Homo sapiens: one gene and its partners. The protein of the gene in region 3 interacts with the protein of the main gene of each other region in a pairwise test. Each region holds a gene or a part of one and is shown on either strand. Other genes may lie near its edges.

What was found.
Region 1: the proteins of ZNF426 (region 3) and MAP2K5 interact in binary tests that used the Homo sapiens proteins (3 or more experiments, as listed by UniProt).
Region 2: the proteins of ZNF426 (region 3) and DUSP4 interact in binary tests that used the Homo sapiens proteins (3 or more experiments, as listed by UniProt).

Annotation. Positions count from the first base shown.
Region 1 is NC_000015.10:67,804,703-67,807,651, forward strand, and holds the end of MAP2K5 (dual specificity mitogen-activated protein kinase kinase 5), read left to right. Parts: intron 1-1,943; coding exon 1,944-2,048; 3' UTR 2,049-2,412; downstream 2,413-2,949. UniProt on the Homo sapiens protein: Acts as a scaffold for the formation of a ternary MAP3K2/MAP3K3-MAP3K5-MAPK7 signaling complex.
Region 2 is NC_000008.11:29,333,648-29,340,684, forward strand, and holds part of DUSP4 (dual specificity protein phosphatase 4), read right to left. Parts: intron 6,597-7,037; coding exon 6,451-6,596; intron 4,855-6,450; coding exon 4,635-4,854; intron 3,765-4,634; coding exon 3,379-3,764; 3' UTR 1-3,378. UniProt on the Homo sapiens protein: Regulates mitogenic signal transduction by dephosphorylating both Thr and Tyr residues on MAP kinases ERK1 and ERK2.
Region 3 is NC_000019.10:9,535,625-9,542,820, forward strand, and holds the start of ZNF426 (zinc finger protein 426), read right to left. Parts: upstream 3,022-7,196; 5' UTR 2,951-3,021; exon of another isoform or gene 2,722-2,950; 5' UTR 2,635-2,721; intron 733-2,634; 5' UTR 609-732; coding exon 584-608; intron 1-583. UniProt on the Homo sapiens protein: May be involved in transcriptional regulation.

The DNA.
Region 1 (2,949 bases), on a different chromosome or scaffold from region 3:
CTGTGTTACCCCGGGCGTGGGGGGAGGGGCCCGTCACTCGTGAGCACAGCTTCTCCCTTTGTTCTTTAGAAGGGCACGAGGTCGCCCCTCCTGAGCCTCCTGAGAGGAAGTGTGCACGCTTGGACTTTGGGAAGGATTTCCTCTGTCTAGGCAGCGATTTGGGAAAGCAGCCGTGGGGTGGGCATATATATGGGGAGGAGAACACTTGGAAGCCAAAATCCAGTCCTTCCTGGGCCTCTCCTGCTCAGGCCCCAGACCAAACCTCTGCCATCCACAGGGCCACACCCAGCCTGGCCTCCATGGCCCCTGTGCCCTTAGGGGTCCTGCAGGTGTGTCAGGAGCCTCCCAGAGTGCTATGAGCAGATTATGGGAAGTACCCAGCTGGGCTCCAGGCCTAGCTCCACCCCAGTCTCAGCGGGTCCCTGCCCGGGGTTGAGTGCCTTGGCATCTTCGAAGCCGAGTTTCCTCCTCCTCCTCGCAGCTCTGACAGTGCTCTGTGTGCCTCTGAGATAGACCCACGCAGGGTGTCCCCAGGGCAGGTTTCCCAACCTCGAATGAGAAGGTTGGGGGCGGGCACTGCATCAGCCTAGGATGAGGCGGCCTGAGCATTCTCCTGTCCCCCACAGTTCTGACCTGTGGTCCAGAGGGGCCATGCCGTCCCCTGCTCTACCCAGGCCTGGTCCTTGACAGCCCCTGCAGGCGCTGAGGTTGGGACAGCCAGGGTCCACATCCCTCCTGGCTTTGTGATGAGCTCGTGGCGAGGCCATGCGGCTCTTTAAGCAGCCTCTCTAGGGCTGCAGTCAAGGCTGGGGTGTGCTGGGAAAGCAACCCTGAAAGCCCAGCCTGTGCAGGTGGAGGACAGGCCCAAGAGGGGCTGAGGAAGCTGGAGGGAGGAGAGAGCTGGGGGGAGCGAGGAAGCGGCCGCTGGACAGGGAGGGAGAAGAGCTGGGGGCAGGCACATGGCGCCCTCATCTCCCCCATTCTCTGTCCTCGCTATGGCTCCCCGAGTCTCACCATGCAAGCTGCACAGTTTTGGGTAGGAGAGGAAGCCACTTGGTGTAAGTTCCTGGGCAAGAAGCCACTTGGTGAAGAGGAAGAAAAAGAAGGCTTTTCACTTTTCCTTTCACCTCTGACTGTGGCCTGGTAACCCTGGGGTTGTCCCTGCTTTTTTCTGACCTTCCCTGGGAATTCCCAGGAGGCCCTAAGATTGTGGATGTAAATCTTGGTGCTTCAGGACAGCAGAGAAGAGAACTGGCTAAATAGAATCTGGTCTGCCTGTGTGATAAGTGGGTTAGAACCAGAGGCAGGCCACAGGGCAACAGGGCCGGCCCCTCCAGAGTCCAGCCCCCAATGGAACTTCTCACCAGGAACCCAGAGATCCTGTGCACAGCCCAGCACATTCCTCCCCCTCCCCACTTCCCCTGACATGTTTGCCTTCCCTCCAATTGCAGGTGGTGACTTCTTTTTATAGGAGAGCTGTAGACAAAGGAGAAAGCTAAAAGGGATTGACATAGCCTCTGACGAGATGATTCTTTGGTCTCTGGGCACCAACTGAACCGGAAAGCTGGCAACACAGTGCCAGGCCTCGGCTGACTGGCCGTGCGAGTGATGCCGGGCAGAGGAAGGGCCAGGCAGAGTGTGCAGCGAAGACAGGCCCTCGCCCTTAAGCACCTTCCAGGCTAGTGCGAGCCTCAGGAAGAGGTGGCAGAGTCTGAGATGTGCCAGCCAGCACTCCACACGCTTGGTGCTGACTACCAGTATGTCACTGCTCGTCCCTGGGCCTCAATTATCTAGGCCGTGAAATGGAGCTGATAGCCTCCCTCGTTACCTCACAGGGTTACTGGGGAAAGAGATCAGATCCAGGCTGAGGGCAGGCCCTGGAAAGTACAATGAGCGCGGGAGTCCGAGGACTGCCTGTCACAGCCTCCTCCTCTTCCCCGCAGGGCCACCCGTTCATCGTGCAGTTCAATGATGGAAATGCCGCCGTGGTGTCCATGTGGGTGTGCCGGGCGCTGGAGGAGAGGCGGAGCCAGCAGGGGCCCCCGTGAGGCTGCCGCAGGGCACTGAAAGCCCAGGACCAGTAACCAAGGAGAACAACCCACCCGTCGCCCTTCTCCGTATGCTGCCTGCGCCAGAAGAGCTTTGCTGGGCCCTGGCTTCCCTGCCCTCGCCTTCACCTCTGTCAGCAGGTGGCCTTGCCTGGGGAGCCCCATGTGTGGCCCACCCCACCAGGCCATCCCCATACCTTCTGGTTTGAAGGCGCTGACACTGGCAGAGAGGTAAAGGGTGGGGCATTGAGAATGGAGGCTCCCAGGGTCCCTGCCCACTTCTGTTTTCCTAATGTTTTTCTCTATAAAGGGTCAGGCCCGTCAGCATCACTGATGGGAATAAAAGTATTAATGCTTTGTGACAGCCTCTGCCATAAGAGTTGTGTGGTCCAGGGGGTCTGTGACCCCCCCCAGGGCTGGGGGCAGGTGGGATCTCCACTTCAGCAGGGATGTGTGTGACAGTGCCTGCTGCCTGCCCAGGCACCTGCAAGCCTCCTGCTAGCTCCTCGCAGTTGTGCTGAGGCCCACAGCCCAGCTCCACTGTCAGATGAGAAACAGAAGCACGGAGGCATTGGGATGGGTCCCATGGCAAGGAGTAGGCCCGGATCTCAGGCCCCCGCCATGAGCTCCTTACTGGACTGCCAGACACATCCACCTGACCTGCGTGGCTGAGGAGGGAGTGGGCTGTTCTGAGAGGCCCTTCTCCACCCCAGCCCCACCCCTGCTCCTCACTGCCCTTGACCCCACACCTGCCACCTCTCACCTCTCAGGAAATCCCCTCAGCCACATGCCAGGTAAGCCTGGCTACCCCCATTTTGCAGGTGAGGAGCTGAGGCTCCAAGGGGCTCAGGATTCCACTTGAAGGTCTGAATAGCATCTCAACACGTCCAGAAGCAAATTC
Region 2 (7,037 bases), on a different chromosome or scaffold from region 3:
ATGGCAGTTTCCCAAGCTCGGCTGCACAGGGAAAACACCCGGGGAGCTACGAAACACACTGATGCCTGAGTCCCCCACCTAGAATTGGTTGAACTGGTCTAGGAGAGCCTGGGTATCAGAACTGTATAAGTTCCCCAAGTAATTCCAATGCGGGACCATGGCTTTACTACTACAGGCTTGGTTGATGGCCAATTCCCAATCTCCAGCCTCTTCCTGTCATGTTGGAGTCAACTATCCTATGTCCCTCTCTCCATCTTCCCAAGATTTAAAAACCTTTCTCATGGCTTCCCAAATTGGAAAACTCTCTGGAATCCAGCGTGGATGAGCAACTGAACAAAATGGCTTTGGGAGGGAATGATGGGAGCTGGGGCCTACCAGTCACCTGCTCTTCAGCCTAATACTGCTCTGTGGGAAAACTTGGTCCATTTCCCCCAGGGCTCCTCAACACACACCCCTGGGTCAGACGTTCTGGGAGGGAATAGGCAGCATTCCTCACTCTACAGAACACCCAATGAGCATCCTGTCTTTCATGGCTAATACCAAAGTTGACAATCAATGAGGGTCAATGCTTTCCTGTCATTACAGAAACTTCCCATCACCAGAATCCCTTCATGGGAGGGATGGATGCCTGTTGAAACTCACTGACCTATTGGACTGACGCTGGGGTGGTATCTTCATCAGAGCTATTGTAAGTCATCCAAAAGGCTTCTGACGAAAGAACAATTTTTAAAAAGTCCCTCTTTTCAATCAAGCCAATGTCCTATTTTATTTCTAAAAGTTTTGGGACTCGTGCTGTTATCAAGTACAATGAAAATGGCTTTATAAATAGCTGTTTTGACATTGTGATAGAAGGCTTGAATTCGGAGGAAAGATGTCGCTGGAGCTAGTCCTGAGTTCCGACTGTCCCTGTGGTGGGAATCCAGTCTGGGAAAGCAGGACTGTTTTAGCAAACGTGTACTCGTTCTATAAAAATGGAATCTGTTCTGCAGGTTACCGTCCCTCCCCGCCCAAGCATCCCCTCTGTCCTGTCTCTCTGCTGCTGGGACCCAGGGCTTTTTCAGCTGCAGAACCCACTGGACTTCCAGGAATCAAGGAAAAAGTGGAAATGTCCAACTGTGTTGTCTCTAAATGGTTCCATTGTCTGGGAACTGAAACCCTCCATGCTTCACCCTGAACTGTTATTTCTAGAGGAAGCAGGGAGCCTCTGGCTCTTCTAAAAATTGCCAGTGGGAGCTCTGGCCTCACCCACAGGCGGAGCTTGGTGAAGTCAGGATGAATGATGCCGTCACAGGTTCATGGTTCATGGAAGGAAAGGTAACCAACCTTGTCCTGTCTAGGATGCCAGATGAGAAAGAGTATCCCAACGTGACGGTGACATTGAGGCTTGACGTTATTTATGGGTGAGCAAGAATGTTCATTAGATGTAGACTCTCAAAGGGCTAAAAAAAACCATGCTCTCACTTCTAGACAAGTTTGCAACAACCTCTAAGCTGGCACTCCATAACAAGACTGTTCCACAATACTACAAACAAAATAGCATGTAGCTTGTTCCCTCCTCCCTCCCCCCCAAACCCTCCCCACAGAAAACGTGTCTCCCTCCAAAGCCATTCTCCATTTAGAAAGGCCCAACTAAGGATTCAAAATGGCACCCACGTGCCGACGATAGATTCAAAATGGCGCCTGCGTGCCCATGACGCACGTCACGGGAGCCAGCGGCCAGCCCCCTCACCAGCAGTCAGCCCCAACCCCACCCTGGCGCTTTGATTTCCAGTTTGGGAAATTCATACCAATGGAATCCGATGTAAGCAATCCACCATCAGCTCACTGATGCTCTCTTGCCCTTCCACACTTCGAGAAGACCTGAAATGTGGTGTCCATTCCCCTCTTTATTCAAAAGAGGACCTTCAAAAATATTCACCTAACTAGGAATTTAAAGAACACAAGAAATTGTTGGTATATTTCACTTCAGGTAACTGCCCTAAAATTAAAACCTCCAATTTATGCAAAAAAAGAAAAGATGGTGCTTCAATTTACAAAAGGATTCATTTCAGGGTTATCTCTAGTTGTCTGGTTTCCCCAATGGCTGGCCTTGCCAAATGATTTGCTGTAGGAAAATTTGAACTGCACCCAATTTTCCAGGAGCACCTTAGTGTAATATGGCATATTGATCACAGACGATAGACAAGTCTTAGGCAGGTTTATGCAAAAAATGCTGCAACCACCCAGTGATCATCGGAGGGAAAAAAGCTTGACTTACTGTGGTCTAAAATTGCTTCGGTGGCCTACATGCCCATGAACCAGCTTCAAAAGCAATTCACATTGGTCATGATGACACACACCTGCAGTCCCAGCTACTCAGGAGGCCGAGGTGGGAGGATCTCTTGAGCCCAAGAGCTTGAGATGAGCCTTGGCAACATAGTGAGATGCTGTCTTTTTTTTTCTTTTCTTTTTTTTTAAAAAAGCAATTCAAACCTAATTCTTCCCTTTCTTCCTCCTCCCACCCAACCCGCCTGCTTCTCAAGATGAGCCTTGGCAACATAGTGAGATGCTGTCTTTTTCTTTTCTTTTTTTTTTAAAAAGCAATTCAAACCTAATTCTTCCCTTTCTTCCTCCTCCCACCCAACCCGCCTGCTTCTCAGTGGCAACAAACTCAAGTTGCTCATCATGCTACCTTGCACATATCTACAAGACACCATTTACTTCCTAACTGCCTTGACATCTGCATGCTACGGTGCTCAGCTGTTTGACATCAACATAAATATATTCTAAATCCACTGTAACTAGACTTTTTGTACTTTCATACTCTGAAGAAAGTCTTAATAAATACTTTATTATTAAGCATAATTATTCATCTGTTGGTGACTGAGAAATGAAAACCACACCTTCGAAGATTTCTTTTAAAAAATGAAATTCCTTTAACTACAACAACGACAACAAAGGGACAAGTACACAGAACCAGGCACTTCTGGGAAACTTGTCTTCTCATCCCTTTGCCCTCCCTTCCTCCCCCTTTAGTAAAGCTGGTTGGGCACATTTGCTAGGATCTGTGGGTTTCATCACTTCAAGCCTTACTGCTTAAAAAAATGAGGTAAGAAATTTCTATCGGAAAAGTGAAACTGACACATAAACCAAACCAAGGTCTTCCCTGGCTGCTGCGGCAGCCGTTATTGCTCTAAGTTGGAGTGTTCTGTTTGCTTTTATTATGTATTCGGAGTCCTTATTGCCATTCTGGCTGGCCTCGTCGTTGGCCAAGGAGAAATGATGGGGAAGGAGCTCGGTCGCCTGCTCCCAGCTGCTCAGTCCCAACTTTCTGCCCGCATGCGGCCCGTCCTACCCTTGCTGGGAGCCAGCTCTGGTTCTGGGGCCCCCAGGGCGGCTCTAACAGCTGGGAGAGGTGGTGATGGGGCTGTGCAGGTAGGGCAGGCTGCTGGGGGCCGAGTGCACGCCCACGGAGACCGGAAAGCTGAAGACGAACTGCGAGGTGGGGGTGGCGGGGGTCTTGCCCCGCTCCCGCAGGGGTCCCGAGGGGCTAGCAGCCTCCGCAGCACAGGACGTGGCCAGCACCTGGGACTCGAACTGCAGCAGCTGCCCCATGAAGCTGAAGTTGGGCGAGATGATGCTGCGGCGCTGCTTAACGAACTCGAAGGCCTCCTCCAGCCTCACCCGTTTCTTCATCATCAGGTAGGCCAGGCAGATGGTGGCCGACCGCGAGATGCCCGCCTGGCAGTGCACCAGCACGCGCCCACGGCAGTCCTTCACGGCATCTGGGGACAGGGTTCAATAGGTTAGTGCACGTTTCTGCAGACCCCAGCCCCGACCAGGGGCACCGGCCAGCCCCTGGGGTCGGGGGGCTCTGAAGGAAGGACTAGCCGTGCTAGACCAAGGACTGGAGAGGAAGAAAACCCATGTAGGCAGGTCTCTAGAATGCCCCCAATTCTGAGGTCTATTTTCCCGAATCACTATGCTGAAGCTGGTTAAATCCTATTATCTGTTCAAGGATTTCCCTTTGCAGAAACAAAACAGTGGGGTCCAGGGTGGTGGCTCACTCCTGTAATCCCAGCGCTTTGGGAGGCCAAGGAGGGTGGATAACTTGAGCTCAGGAGTTCAAGACTAGCCTGGGCAATATGATGAAACTGTCTCTACAAAAATACAAAAATTAGCTGGGCGTGGTGGTGCACTTGTAGTCCCAGCTACTCCAGAGGCTGAGGCAGGAGAATCACTTGCACCCCAGAAGCGGAGGTTGCAGTGAGCTGAGATGGCGCCACTGCACTCCAGCCTGGGCAACAGAGCAAGGCTCTGTCTCAAAATAAATAAATAAATAGAAATAAAATAAAAACTATGACTCAATGCTCCTTGTGTCTTCCTCCCCGTCCAAAAACTCTTACCATCTAGGCACTGAAGCCATGCAAGGGGAAGGGGACTGGCTCTGCAAGCTAAGCCTGTGTGTAGGTCCATCTTCCCTCCTCCCTCCCAACCCAACATCCAATGTATAAGCCTTCCCAATGAGGAAGAGGGGGAATGGGGACCCTTGGATTCAGTGCCTCCAATGTCCACCTTCAACCCAGGCTTACAGGGGTTCCTTATCCTTCCCACCCGCCCTCAAACCCAGGAACCCCAGAGCAGGGCCAGCCTACCGATGTACTCTATGGCTTCCATGAACCAGGAGCTGATGTCGGCCTTGTGGTTATCTTCCACTGGGATGCACTTGTACTGATAGTGTCCTTCAAAGTGGTTTGGGCAGTCCGAGGAGACATTCAACAGAGCCGTGATGCCCAGGGCGTCCAGCATGTCTCTCCGGGCAGCATGGTAGGCACTGCCGAGGTAGAGGAAGGGAAGGATCTCCACAGGACCCCCCTGCACAGAAAGGGAAACAAAGGCCCCTGAATGACATGAGGGTAAAGTGCTTGGCACAGGGAGTGGAAGCTTGTCTGAGAAGAGCTTTCCTTTCCAAACCCAGGGAGAATGCCTGCTGGGCCTGGCCCTCCCAGCCTCCCCCTGTAGCCTCCTGGAACTCTTGGAGGGGTGATAGGCCCAGTGGGACTTCTCCAGCCTTTGCCCTCTACTTGTGAGCAGAGAGGCCAGGGCAGGTAAAGTCTTGTGGGACTCTCCTGCACCTCCCCCATGGCAAAATAAGCGGCAGGACAATGCCGGCCTTATGGCACCATCTGTGACACTGAGTTTATATCTGCTAATCATCAAGCCATTTGCTGTGTGGTTTAGATACTTATTTGTTTTGATATGTATTCACTGGGCATATCAAAAACAGGTGTGCAGTGGCTCACACCTGTAATCTCAGCACTTTAGGAGGCTGAGGTGGCAGGATCATGTGAGCCAGGAGTTCCAAGACCAGCATGGGCAACACAGTGAGACCTCATCTCTCAAACAATGAAGCTGGCATGATGGTGCACACCTGTAGTCTCAGTTGCTTGGGAGGCTGAAATGGGAGGATCATTTGAGCCCAGGACTTTGAAGCTGCAGTGAGCTATGATTGCGCCACAGGACTCAAGCCTGGGTAACAGAGTGAGACTCTGTCTCTAAAAATAAACAAATAAATAAGCTGATGCCCTCATGGCCACACAGACAAGAGAGAGGATCTTGGCAAAATGAGGCAACAGTGGCTTAAATTTAGCACATGAGATGTGGGCAGCAGAGTCCATCTAACTGAAAGGGCTGGAGGGTGGGCTTATAAGAAACACAGTGGCTCAAGCAGGTTTTCTTGGAGGGAGGGTGGGTGACCATCTATGTTCATTCGGCTGATACGTGGGAGCAGCCTGCCTGTCGGGGACTGAGATGTATTTCATGGCCTGCTACTTCAGAGGAGAATGACCTCAGCTTCCCAGAGAGCAGGTCCCCCAGGGCTTCTGGAGGCCTCCTCACTTGTCCGGACACGACGTTAGAGGCCAAGCCAGGGAGTCATGTCTTTAGACTTTTTTCTTAGGAGGATATTTAGAGAGGGAAGGGGAAGATTTCCAAGAAGTAAATAGGTCCTACCTAACATCCCACCCCAATACTCCGGGTTCACCGCATTCTCCCCAAATTGAGGCATAACATTCAAAGACTTAAAAAAATCTCAGGATTGGATGCAGTGGCTCACGCCTGTGATCCCAACACTTTGGGAGGCCAAAGCAGGAGGATCACTTGAGGCCAGGAGTTCAAGACCAGCCTGGGCAACATAGCAAGACCCCCCCCCCCCATCTCTACCAAAAACCTTTTAAAATTAGCCAGGCATGGTAGTGCCACCTGTAGTCCCAGCTACCAGGGAGGATCCCTTGAGCCCAGGAGTTCGAGGCTGCAGTAAGCTATGATCACACCACTGCACTCCTGGGTGACAGAGCAAGACTGTCTCAAAAGCAAAGACAAAAAACACCGTCAGAACTCTGAAAAGAAGGCATCCACTGGCCCCTACGCTGTTCCTGCCCCCCACTTCCAAGCCCTGCCCCCCGAGTCTACCTGGTCGTGTAGTGGGGTCCCACAGGAGCTGCAGCCCAGGTCCAAGGGCTCTGTGGCACTGGGGGGAACCGGGGGTGGGATGGCTGCCAGGGCCTTGGTTTTAGAACAGAATTCTGGGTACTCGGAGGAAAACCTCTCATAGCCGCCTGTAAAGGAGAAAGAAGCTCAGGTTAATGGGGTCACTAAGCCAGCAGGAAGTCAGAAAGAACTCGACTCCTACAGACTCAGGCGGACTGCTAGGAAGGCAGGGGCTGGCGTGCTCCATATTGGCCACTAGGTGGCGCTGTGGACCTAGAGAATGGCCATGGAGTGGTTTCCAGAGATGCAGAGGACACACTCGTCAGGACTGCAGCAAAGCTGGAAGGATAAGCTTTATGGACAAGACTTGGGTTAGAGAGGTAGACATACAAAGGAAGACGTGCAGGGGGATGTGCAGAAGTGACTGTGGAGTAGCTCCTCAGGACAATGACAAAATAGAGAAGCAAAGGTCACGCTGGGCTTCCAAGGACACTAAGTACCTGTAGAGACACCTGCCACCCCTGATTCCAGCCCTTCCTCAGGGGAGGTTCTCCAATGTGAGAAAGAAG
Region 3 (7,196 bases):
GACTACCCTGGACAACACAGTGAACATAAACTCCCCATCTCTACAAAAAAATTTTTTTAATCAGCCAGGCATGGTGGCATGTGCCTGCAGTCCCAGGTACTTGGGAGGCAGAGGTGGGAGGATTGCTTGAGCCCAACAGTTTGAGGCTGCAGTGAGCTATGAATGCACCACTGCACTCCAGCCTGGACAAAAGAGCGAGACTTTGTATAAGAAAAAAAAAAAAAAGAAAAGAAAGAAAATGCAAACATACAACCTACTACCATACAATGCCAGAGCAGTCCTAAACGTGATGATGAGCTGTGCTGCCCATCAGGAAAAGTACAATAGTCTCATTTCACACATAAGGAAACATATACCCAGAGCATGGGACTCTATCATGCTGATTAGAATTCATGAAGGAGATTATGCAGTACCTCTTTCCAAAATTCACAGGCAGAGCCTGACTCACAAGACAGCACGTTCTGGCACCCCTCAGCACCTCCCAAATGAATCAGCAACATGACCAGCTGCCCAAACCACTAGACCCTATATTGTGTAAAGGGAACCTAGAACAGGATATCCTAAAAAGAGCAACAGAGCTTACCATGGGACAAATCAGCAGCTGCCATCCCGCGAGGTGAGAACGTGTCAGAACCCTCCTTTCATTGATGTCACCATCACTTCAGGACACCTCATTAATCTAAATGGACAGTGGCAATCTCCATTCCTCTTTAAACAGGGTTATTGGGATTCCTGTTGGTATTAATCAATAATCAACAAGCAGTACTTAATCATCAGCCATCAAACATATACACCGGCTGGGGCAGTAGCTCATGCCTGTAATCCCAGCATTTTGGGAGGCCAGGGTGGGAGGACTGCTTCAGCCTAGAAGTTTGAGACCAGCCTGGGCAACATAGCAAGACCCTATCTCTAAAGAAACAAAAATAAAAATAAGTAAACAAACAAAAAAAAATGAAGTGGTAAACCAGAACCTGAATGCAAGTACAAGTTTTGCACACACACATAGAAAAAATAATCTCACAATACACTTTTAAGTATTGGGTAGCCTCAACTGGGCCTTGATTGGAAACACTCAAATCAAATCTGCATCCCCAGCTCACACTGTCAGAGAGGCAAGGCCAAACCACTCTGTGCCTAACACTGGTCTGTTTTATGGGTCTTCAAAGAGAACTACCTTTTCATAGTATTTATCTGGTTAATTTTTTTCCACCAAAGTTTGGTTTTATTTGGCTGGGCAGGGTGGCTCACGCCTGTAATCCCAGCACTTTGGGAGCCTGAGGCCAGAAGATCATGAGGTCAGGAGTTCAAGACCGGCCTAACCAACACGGTGAAACTCCATCTCTACTAAAAATACAAAAATTAGCCGGGCGTGGTGTGCGGCTGTAATCCCAGCTACTCAGGAGGCTGAGGCAGGAGAATCGCTTGATCCTGGGAAATGGAAGTTGCAGGGAGCTGAGATCACACCACTGCACTCCAGCCTAGGTGACAGAGCAAGACTCTGTCTCAAAAAAAAAATAATAATAATAATAATGACAATCATTAATTAATCAAACATGAAACAGTGGCTCAAACAATCACCTACAGAATGGGAGTCAAATGATGATAAACAGTGAAAGTTCCGCAGTTCATTATCCATGAACCAAATTCACAAAAACTCTATAGGCCTCCTTCTACCAATAAGACTAAAACCCTAAAGTCACAAAAACCACAGTTCTGGACTCCTGGTATAGATCACACCTACTCCCAGGGGTCTCAAACTAGGGGTCCTAGGGCTGACTAGGCCCACAAATATTCAGTTTGGTGGCATCTGTATAGAATATTTAACTCTTTTTTTTTTTTTTTTTTTGGAGAGATGGAGTCTTGCTATGTTGCCCAGGCTGGTCTTAAACTCCTGGGCTCAAGAGATCTTCCTGCCTCAGCCTCTCAAAGTGCTGGGATCACAGGTGTGAGCCACTGTACCCAGCCAGCTTTTTTTTTTTTTCATTGATATACAATCAATGTAGCTTAAAATGCACACATCCTTCGTTTCTCTTTTTTTTCTTTTGAGACGGAGGCTCACTCTGTCTCCCAGGCTGGAGTGCAGTGGCACGATCTCAGCTCACTGCAACGTCCGCCTCCTGGGTTCAAGTGATTCTCCTGCCTTAGTCTCCCAAATAGCTGAGATTCCAAGACCCCACCACCACGCTCGGCTAATTTTTTTTCTATTTTTAGTAGAGACGGGGTTTCACCATCTTAGCCAGGCTGGTTTCAAACTCCTTAATCCAACCATCCTGTTCATTGTAAATTTGATTATTGTGATACTAGAATAATAAAGCCTTCATCCTTTCCCTCTGGAGGTCTGATTAAGAAGCTCTCTTGGGATGTACAGGCCTAGGAACTCCATTCGAAGATAATGAATTATTATTCTTAGTATTCTTTAGCAGAAAGACTTGCGGTCTACAAACGTTTATATTCACATACACAAATACGCACACCCTATAAACCTAAAAAGCATCTTTATCTTTCGCCATGAAAGTAATGGTCAAAAATAAAACACAACACAATAAGACGAAACCAAACTTACAGATGAAACATTCGTTTGCATAAGAGAAGACAGAAAAGGCCCCCTAGAACCAACTTTCACCCAGTGCTCACCGGAACACTCAGAAATCGCCAGGTCCCTGAACCGGGAAGATCCTGGGGACGGAGCCAACGCGGATGCAAAAGGCAGCAATTATTTTCCTGCCGGAAAAAAATTCACAAACGCTGCTTTGGAGGCCTTTGGAGAGGGGCGCACAGATGAAAACACCCTGCGGACACCGTAACTATAAACCCGACTCCTCCCGAGGAGCGACGGTCCGAGCGGACGCTAGCGGGCCCAGCAGACACGAGCAGAGCGGGCCAGGCCTCTCTAACGTCCGGGCCAAACCCGTCCTTCACCCCAAAACCAGTTCATCTCCTCGGAACTCACCCAGGCCAGTGAGGCCTTAACTCTGAAAGGCAAAAAGACTCTCAGGCGCTCACAGCCGGCGTCACAAAAGGAACGGCGCACCGCTGACGTCATTTACGCTCTCCGCCTCGGGCCAGGCGGGGTTTCGGGACTAGGGTTTCTGCCGTGTAATACCTCCTCGAGGCAGAAAAATTCTACTTTCCATCTGCTTGGCTGCGGAGGACCTTGGGGTGGGCTCAGCGTGGGGGCTGCAGGCAGAAATGGGTCCAGAAGGCAAGGTCGAGGTTAGAGCCAAGCCTGTGGGCAGGGCTACGGGCAGGGGGCGGGGAGGAATGTGGGTCCAGGCCCAGAGGAAAAGGTTGAAGTTATAGCCAGGCCTGTGGGCGAGGCCGCAGCAGGGCGGCCATAGGGGAAGGAGCCAATGTGTTATGCATGTAGAAAATAGGTAACTACGTCTTTTGCTCTGTTACTATTTCAACATTTGATGTAAAAAACATTTTCTATGCAGCTAAAAGAATTGTTTTTAAAAATAATTTCTAGGTTTTCTGCCTTGCTTTAAAACATCTTTTCTTTTTTTTTGAGACAAAATCTCACTCTGTCACCAAGGCTGGAGTTCAGTGGAGCCATCTCAGCTCACTGCAACCTCCACCTCCCAGGTTCAAGCGATTCTCCTGCCTCATCCTCCCAAGTAGCTGGAATTACAGGTGCATGCTGCCACACCCTGCTAATTTTTGTATTTTTAGTAGAGGCAGGGTTTTGCCATGCTGGCCAGGCTGGTCTTGAACTACTTGTCAGGCCTCTGAGCCCAAGTTAAATCATCATAAACCCTGTCACCTGCACGTATACATCCAGATGGCCTGGAGCAACTGAAGAACCACAAAAGAAGTGAAACAGCCAGTTCCTGCCTTAACTGATGACGTTCCACCATTGTGATTTGTTGCTGCCCCACCCCAACTGATCTCTTGACCTTGTGACATTCTTCTTCTGGACGAGTCTCAGGAGTTCCCCACCGAGCACCTTGTGACCCCCGGCCCTGCCAGCAAAAGATAACCACCTTTAACTTTCCACTACCTACCCAAATCCTATAAAACTGCCCCACCCCTATCTCCCTTTGCTGACCCCTTTCTCGGACTCAGCCCACTTGCACCCAAGTGAATAAACAGCCTTGTTGCTAACACAAAGCCTATTGGTGGTCTCTTCACATGGATGTGTGTAACATTTGGTTCCGAAACCTGGGACAGGGGGACTCCCTTGGGAGACTGGCCCCGTCCTCACCCTCACTCCGTGAGGAGCTCCACCTACTACCTCGGGTCCTCAGACTAGCCCAAGGAACATCTCACCAATTTCAAATTGGGTAAGCAGTCTCTTCACTCTCTTCTCCAGCCTCTCTCACTACCCTTCCATCTCTCTGTCCTTCCAATTCCAGTTCTTTTTCCTCTCCAGTAGAGACAAAGGAGACACATTTTATCTGTGGACCCAAAACTCCAGCTCCAGTCACGGACTCAGGAAGACAGTCTTTCCTTGGTGGCTAATCACTGTAGGGATACCTGCCTGATTATTCACCTACATTCCATTGGTGTCTGATCACTGTGGGGATGCCTGCCTTGATCATTCACCCACATTCCCTTGGTGGCAAGTCAATTGCAGGGCTGCCTGCTTTGGCTGCTTACCCACATTACAGCCCAGGGCTGCTCACCCCCACCCCACTCCACTGCCTTCTCCATGTCTCTACCTTTCTCTTTAAACTTACCTCCTTCACTATGGGCAATCTTCTGCCCTCCATTCCCTGTTCTTCTCCCTTAGCCTGTGTTCTCAAGAACTTAAAACCTATTCAACTCACACCTGACCTAAAACCTAAATACCTTATTTTCTTCTGCAACACCACTTGGCCCCAGTACAAACTTGACAATGGTTCTAAATGGCCAGAAAATGGCACTTTTGATTTCTCCATCCTACAAGATCTAGATAATTTTTGTCATAAAATGGGCAAATGGTCTGAGATGCCTGACATCCAGGCATTCTTTACACATTGGTCCGTCCCTAGTCTTTGCTCCCAATGTGACTCATCCCAAATCTTTCTTGTTTCTTTCTTGTCCTTTGAATCCTCCTTTTCTATGGACCCATCTGACCTCTCCCCTCCCCCTCAGGCTGCTCCTCGCCAAGCTGAGCCAGGTCCTAACGTATCCAGAATTGGTGGGTTCTTGGTCTCACTGACTTCAAGAATGAAGCCGTGGACCCTCGCGGTGAGTGTTACAGTTCTTAAAGGCGGCGTGTCTGGAGTTTGTTCCTTCTGATGTTCGGATGTGTTCAGAGTTTCTTCCTTCTGGTGGGTTTGTGGTCTCGCTGGCTCAGGAGTGAAGCTACAGACCTTTGCGGTGAGTGTTACAGCTCTTAAAGGCAGCATGGACCCAAAGAGTAAGCAGTAGCAAGATTTATTGCAAAGAGCAAAAGAACAAAGCTTCCACAGCGTGGAAGGGGACCCAAGGGGGTTGCCACTGCTGGCTCAGTAGCCTGCTTTTATTCTCTTATCTGGCCCTACCCACATCCTGCTGATTGGTAGAGCCGAGTGGTCTGTTTTGACAGGGTGCTGATTGGTGTGTTTACAAACCTTGAGCTAGATACAGAGTGCCAATTGGTGTTTCCACAATCCCTGAGCTAGACATAAAGGTTCTCCACATCCCCACCAGACTCAGGAGCCCAGCTGGCTTCACCCAGTGGATCCCGCACTGGGGCTGCAGGTGGAGCTGCCTGCCAGTCCCGCGCCATGTGCCCGCACTCCTCAGCCCTTGGGTGGTTGATGGGACTGGGCACCATGGAGCAGGGGGGAGCTCTCATCAGGGAGGCTCGAGCTGCACAGGAGCCCATGGAGGGGGTGGGAGGCTCAGGCATGGCGGGCTGCCAGTCTTGAGCCCTGCCCTGTGGGAAGGCAGCTAAGGCCTGGCGAGAAATCAAGCGCAGCACCAGTGGGCTGGCACTGCTAGGGGACCCAGTACACCCTGTGCAGCTGCTGGCCTGGGTGCTAAGCCCCTCATTGCCTGGGGCCAGCAGGGCCGGCCAGCTGCTTCGAGTGCAGCCGCCAAGCCCACGCCCACCTGGAACTCCAGCTGGCCCGCAAGCACCATGCACAGCCCCAGTTCCCGCTCGCGCCTCTCCCTCCACACCTCCCTGCAAGCTGAGGGAGCTGGCTCCAGCCTTGGCCAGCCCAGAAAGGGGCTCCCACAGTGCAGCAGTGGGCTGAAGGGCTCCTCAAGTGCCGCCAAAGTGGAAGCTCAGGCAGAGGAGGCGCCAAGAGTGAGCGAGGGCTGTGAGGACTGCCAGCACGCTGTCACCTCTCACTAATTCTTCCTCAGCCTCTGCTCCCTACCCTGTGATCTTTCTATCACCTCCCCTTCTCACACCCGGTCCAGCTTACAGTTTCATTCCATGACTAGCCCTCCCCCACCTGCCCAACAATATCCTCTTAGAGAAGTGGCTGGAGCTGAAGGCATAGTCGAGGTTAATGCTCCTTTTTCTTCATCCAACCTCTCCCAAGTCAGTTAGCATTTAGGCTCTTTTTCATCAAGTATAAAAACCCGGCCCAGTTCATGGCCTGTTTGGCAACAACCCTTAGACAGTTTACCACCCTAGAACCAGAGAGGCCAGAAGGCCATCTTATTCTCAATATGCATTTTATTCTCAATATGCATTTTATTACCCAATCTGCTCCCAAGACTAGAAAAAGCTCCAAAAATTAGATTCTGACCCTCAACCCCCACAACAGGACTTAATTAACCTCACCTTGAAGGTGTACAATAATAGAGAAGAGGCAGCCAAGTGGCGTTGTATTTCTGAGTTGCAATTACTTGCCTCTGCTGTGAGATAAACCCCAGCCACATCTCCAGCACATAAGAACTTCAAAATGCCTAAACCACAGAGGCCAGGTGTTCCTCCAGGACCTCCTCCCTCAGGTTCTTGCTTTAAGTGCTGGAAATCTGGCCACTGGGCCAAGGAATGCCCGCAGCCCAGGATTCCTCCTAAGCCATGTCCCATCTGTGGGACCCCACTTGAAATCGGACTGTCCAACTCACCTGGCAGCCACTACCAGAGCCACTGGAACTCTGGCCCAAGGCTGTCTGACTGACTCCTTCCCAGATCTTCTCGGCTTAGCAGCTGAAGACTGACACTGCCCGATCACCTCGGGAGCCTCCTGGACTATCACAGATGCTTTGGGTAACTCTTACAGTGGAGGGCAAGTCTGTCCCCTTCTTAATCAATACAGAGGCTACCC